Regions from separate parts of the Homo sapiens genome. Here region 2 is linked to region 1. Evidence: fine-mapped expression QTL. A gene starts in region 1. The other region holds a variant in brackets. All regions are shown on one strand. Distances are from middle to middle.

Region 1 (2,905 bases):
CTGCCTTAAAACAAAACAAAACAAAATAATAATAACGAAAACATACTGAGCCCTCATCAGAGATGGCATTAGGCAAAAATGCCAATGAATTGCCTCTTTTAATCCTCACAGCAATTTTGTAGCAAAGACACAATTATTTTATTTTACAGTTGAAACAAGCTCAAGGACATTATCCGAGAGGCTGAGCTAGGATTTAAATCGGGCTATTTAGATTCCACGCTTGTGCCTTTAACCACCACAAAACTGCCTCTATAAATGCTAAAGAAAAGAAAAGAAAAGAAAAGCATATACTCCATAAATTGTAAGTTCCTTAAAGGTTGGGGTCTTTTTTTTTTTTTCTTTTTGAGACGGAGTTTCGCTCTTGTTGCCCAGGCTGGTGTGCAATGGCGCGATCTCGGCTCACCGCAACCTCTGCCTCCTGGGTTCAAGCGATTCTCCTGCCTCAGAGGCCTCCCGAGTAGCTGGGATTACAGGCATGCGACACCACGCCCAGTTAATTTTGTATTTTTAGCAGACACGGGGTTTCTCCATGTTGGTCAGGCTGGTCTCGAACTCCCGACCTCAGGTGATCCGCCCGCCTAGGCCTCCCAAAGTGCTGGGATTACAGGCGTGAGCCACCGCGCCCGGCCAGGTTGGGTTCTTTTTTGAGTCACCCTGCCCAGGCCTTTAATTTCATTCAGCAAAGTATTGCACATGTACATCCTTGCACTGTTCGGGTGCAAGGATCCAATGGAGGGCAAGACAAGCAGGATCCCTGTCAACAGGGCGCTTACAATCTGGGGAGAGGCAGCGCACAGTCAGAATGCAGTGTGGCCAGAGTTACCTACAGAGTATTTGAGGCGCACAGAACGGCATCCCAATCCGGAAAGTCAGGTGGTCAAGATTTTAGGAGCAAATATTTTAGGAGCTGGAACTCTAATAGTAGGGGGAGCGAATTTTCCAAGAATGAGGTGCAGAAGGTGTGAAAAATCCTGGGGTGATTAAGCTGCCGATAGCGCACACAGGTCTGCAGGCAGGCCCTCCCAGCGTCCCCAGCATCCACAAGGGCGCCGGCAAGGCTCGCCCAGCGCCCGGGGAAAACGCCGGCGGGTCCCGAGTTCCCCGGGCGGTGGCTGCAGCCCCTGCTCCAGTCGCCCCGCACCTGTCTTCTCCCCGAAATACTCTCGGTAGGTCCGCCACCAGTGCGGGGCCTGCGCCTCCTGCTCTGCTCGGCGCCGGTAGCGGTCGAAGCTCCGGTACTTCTCCAGCCGCTCCAGGTTGCTCAAGTCGATGTCACTGTTGGGCATCGGCCCCAGCGGGGGTGTCCGGCGGCCCAGGACGGCTGCGGGCAGAGAGAAGACGTAAGGCCGGCGCCCCACAGCTCGGGCGACAGCCCCCCCCCCCCCCCCCGCAGAGCTGCCCACCCCTCACCCGAGGTGCTGAAGCCCCGCCATCTCCGACACTCGCACAGCGCGGCTCGCCACCAGGGCGCCGCCATCTTCCCTCCGGCCTGCGACACTGCGGCCGCCACTAGGACCCGGGCACAGGTGGCCAGCGCGGTGCCTGAGCGCACCACAGCAGGCCCCGCCCCTAGGCCCGCCCCCGGGCCCGCGCTGCGGAGCAGGCCTCAGACGCCTGTCCCGGAGGCCCCTGCACCGTCTGCCTCGGGCGCAGGTGGAAGGTGGCCGCGGTCTGTAGACGCCCGGCTCCGGAAGTGCCCGTTGGACGGCGGGGCGGAGCCGAGAGCAGTCATATGCTCGCCCATGGCTGGCCACCAGGGGGCGGCACAGACCGGGGTCGGCCGCCGGGGCCCTCCTCCAACCCCTGGACGCTGCGTCCTGATTTCCCCAGGGACGCAGGCCTGGTTGGGAGAAGGGGTGCGAGCTCCGATTCCGGACTCTGCTTGGGTTTAAAACCCAGATTGAGGGCTGGGCGCGGTGGCTCACGCCGGGAATCCCAGCACTTTGGGAGGCCAAGGCGGGTGGATCACGAAGTCAGGAGATCGAGACCATCCTGGCCAACACGGTGAAAACCCGTCTCTACTCAAAATACAAAAATTAGCCGGGCGTGGCATACGCCTGTAATCCCAGCTACTCGGGAGGCTGAGGGAGGAGACTCGCTTGAACCTGGGAGGCAGAGGCGGAGGCTGCAGTGAGCCGAGATCGCGCCACTGCACTCCAGCATGGGCGACAAAAGTGAAAACTCTATTTCAATAATAATAATAATAATAAAATAATAGTAATAAAAACCCAGATTGTGGCTGGGCGCGGTGGCTCATACCTGTAATCCCAGCACTTTGGGAGGCCGAGGTGGGCGGATCATCTGAGGTAATTAGTTTGAGACCAGCCCTACGAACATGGCAAAACCCTAAAGATACAAAAATTTTTGTATCTCTACTAATGATACAAAAATTAGCCGGGCGTGGTGGCAGGCGCCTGTAATCCCAGCTACTCAGGAGGCTATGGCACAAGAATTAACTTGAACCCGGGAGGCAGAAGCTGCAGTGAGACGAGATTGCGCCACCACCTCGGTGCCAGAGTGAGACACCGTCTCAAAATGCCCCTCCCCCCCCCCAAAAAAAAACCAGATCGTGACCTTACTGTCTTCCTTGTGGTTTCCTCATTTGGGAAAAAGCAGGTTAACACTAGTGCTTACCTGACAGCTGTCAGGATGAAAAGATTACCCTCTGGAAAGCGCTCGCAGTGGTTTGTGTGTTAGCTCAACTATCTCCAACTTCTCATTATCCACACAAAGGCAGAAGTGACCTGGTTAAGTGCAGATGTGAATGTTTCTGGCAGGACTCAGGCTTGCCCTTGTGATCCAGTTCTACCATGGCAAAACTTGGTAGCCTGGGGAATCTGGGACCCTCCTTTGCCCCAGCCCTGGCCCTCCTGCCCTAAAAGGCAAGACTTTTCCATCGCACTTT
Region 2 (2,906 bases), 47 kb before region 1:
GCGCCGCTCCCCCCTTAGCGCCCAGCGGGGTCCCGGCCGGAAGACTGAAGGCTGAGTGGGACTGGGCACGGCGCGAAACCGGCATCCTGATAACTAGGATTTACAGAATAAGGCTGACTCCTGTCAGCTCGTGACCCAGCCCTGGGCGTCCTCCACGGGGCAGCTGTCATTCCCTAACCGCCCCCCACCAAACCCCTGCACCTCCGAGCTGAATCCGTGAGGCGGAGAGAGGGGGCTGCACTTCCCACGTGGTAGTTCCGGTACTCGTTAATGTTAAGGAATTAGAGTTTGCTTTTCAGTAGACAGCTGCTTTCCTGACTGTGGTGGCCAACCTCTAGATCCACCTGCTTGACTTCGCTTTCCAGGGAGGTCTCCTATGTGAAGAAACAAAGCTGCCTCACTAGAAAAGATCAGGAAACAGCAGCGTTCTGTGAGGTCCTGTGCAATACCAGGTTGGACCTTGCGGGACAAGTACAGTGGGTTAAGGATAGTCATAATGAAATCTGCCCCAATGGTTAGATGTATTTTGGCGCCTGCAATCTCTGCAGTCTTTAAAAAGAATTAAGTCAGACTATGTGCTGATATGGGAAGATCATCAAGGGTTATTAAGCACAGAATGCTGTATACATATAGTTGTATTTGTATAAAAAATAGGATCTAGATAGAAAATTTTTGCAAAGATCCATCAGAAAATGTCTGTGGCATTTTTGAGACATGGGTCTAGGAATTTGGGGTGGATTGGTGACTCGGTATGTCAGTATGCATTGTACTCTTTGGTACTGTTTAATTTTTTTTTCCTATGTGCGTTTAAAATATAAATTTAGGCCGGGCGCGTGGCTCACGCCTGTAATCCCAGCACTCTGGGAGGCCGAGGCGGGCGGATCACGAGGTCAGGAGATCGAGACCATCCTGGCTAACAGAGTGAAACCCCTTATTAAAAATACAAAAAAAAAAAAAAAATTAGCCGGACGTGGTGGCGGGCGGCTGTAGTCCCAGCTACTTGGGAGGCTGAGGCAGGAGAATGGCGTGAACCCGGGAGGCAGAGCTTGCAGTGATCTGAGATTGCGCCACTGCACTCCAGCCTGGGTGACAGAGTGAGACTCCATCTCAAAATAAAATAAAATAAAAATAAATAAATAATATGTAAATTTAAAAAAGAAAAGCAGGCCGGGGTTTGTGGCTCACGCCAAAGGCGTGAGCCAAATTCCAGCACTTTGGGAGGCCAAGGCAGGTGGATCACCTGAGGTCAGGAGTTCAAGACCAGCCTGGCCAACATGGTGAAACTCCATCTCTACTAAAAATACAAAAATTAGCCGGGCATGGTGGCGGGCACCTGTAATCCCAGCTACTCGGGAGGCTGAGGCAGGAGAATCGCTTGAACCTGGGAGGCAGATGTTACAGTGAGCCAAGATCATGCCACTGCATTCCAGCCTAG[G/A]CGACAGAGCAAGACTCCATCTCAGAAAAAAGAAAAAGAAAAGCAAAATCCAGGCCTGGTGCCGTGCCTGTAATCCCAGCACTTTGGGAGGCCAAGGTGGGTGGATCACTTGAGGCCAGGAGTTTGAGACCAGCCTGGACTACATGGCAAAATCCCATCTCTATAAAAATACAAAAATTAGGCCGGGCGCGGTGGCTCACACCTGTAATCCCAGCACTTTGGGAGGCCAAGGTCGGCGGATTACCTGAGGTCAGGAGTTCAAGACCAGCTGGCTAACATGGAGAAACCCCGTTTCTACTAAAAAATACCAAAAACTAGCCGGGTGTGGTGTTGTGCGCCTGTAAGCGCCTGTAATCCGCGCGCCTGTAATCCCAACTACTCGGGAGGCTGCGGCAGGAGAATCCCTTGAACCTGGGAGGTGGAGGTTGCAGTGAGCCGAGATCACGCCATTGCACTCCAGCTTGGGCAACAAGAGCAAAACTCCATCCCAAAAAAAAAAAAAAAAACGCAAAAATACAAAAATTAGTTGTGCATGGTGGCGTGGTTCCTGTAATCCCAGCTAATAGGGAGGCTGAGACATGAGAATTGTTTGAACCTGAGAGGCGAAGGTTTCAGTGAGCCAAGATCGTCCCAGTGCACTCCAGCCTGGGCAACAAAGGAAGATTCTGTCTCAAAGAAAAGAAAAAGAAAAAAAGGAAAATCCCCCCAGCAAAGAGCAGGCAGCATTGGCTGCTCTAAGGACCATAAATGGGAAGATGGGGACAACCTGCCCACCCCTCTCCCACCCCTTTGCCAAATACGTTGGAGACAGGAGCAAGTTCAGGTTTTGCCAGGCCTTGAAGCTTATACAATTTTGGAGGCTGTCTTGGTTGTTTATGTTTTTGTTTTTTGAGACAGGGTCTCATTCTGTCACCCAGGTGCGATCATAGCTCACTGCTTCCTTGGAACTCCTGGACTCAAGTGATCTGGAGGCTCTTTTTAAGAAATAAAATACACAGGCCGGGCGCAGTGGCTCATGCCTGTAATCCCAGCACTTTGGGAGGCTGAGGAAGGTGGATCACCTGAGGTCAGGAATTTGAGACCAGCCTGGCCAACGTGGTGAAACCCCGTCTTTACTAAAAATACAAAAAATTAGCTGGGTGTGGTAGCGGTCACCTGTAATCCCAGCTACTCGGGAGGCTGAGGCAGGAGAATCGCTTGAACCCTGGAGACGGAGGTTGCAGTGAGCTGAGATCAAGCCACTGCACTCCAGCCTGGGCAACGAGAGGAAAGCTCTAACTCAAAAAAAAAAAACAACCCCACAATTATTCATTCACAATACTGTGGCTACAGTGAGGCCTCCTGACAGGAGGGGAAATGACAAGAAGAGGAAGTTGCAGTGCAGAGATAACAAGCTTGACCAGCTCCGGCTACAATGTCCAGAATTTCTAAGTTTTACAAAAACATATGACCATGTGAACACACTTCCTGG

What was found.
Region 2: its variant is fine-mapped to the expression of MRPL38 in whole blood (TOPMed, PIP above 0.99).

Annotation. Positions count from the first base shown.
Region 1 is chr17:75,903,399-75,906,303 of GRCh38, forward strand. It overlaps MRPL38 (mitochondrial ribosomal protein L38), which reads right to left and starts at 1,486. Exons shown (of 9, transcript NM_032478.4): 1 at 1,411-1,486; 2 at 1,142-1,321. The coding sequence starts at 1,477. RefSeq lists silencers at 1,282-1,331, 1,352-1,401, 1,412-1,891.
Region 2 is chr17:75,856,061-75,858,966 of GRCh38, forward strand. It overlaps a transcript of WBP2 not described here. Among named protein-coding and RNA genes, the nearest start is that of WBP2, 2.2 kb to the left of the region's middle. RefSeq lists a silencer at 1-30 and an enhancer at 99-894. The variant G/A (reference allele first, on the strand shown) is at 1,436.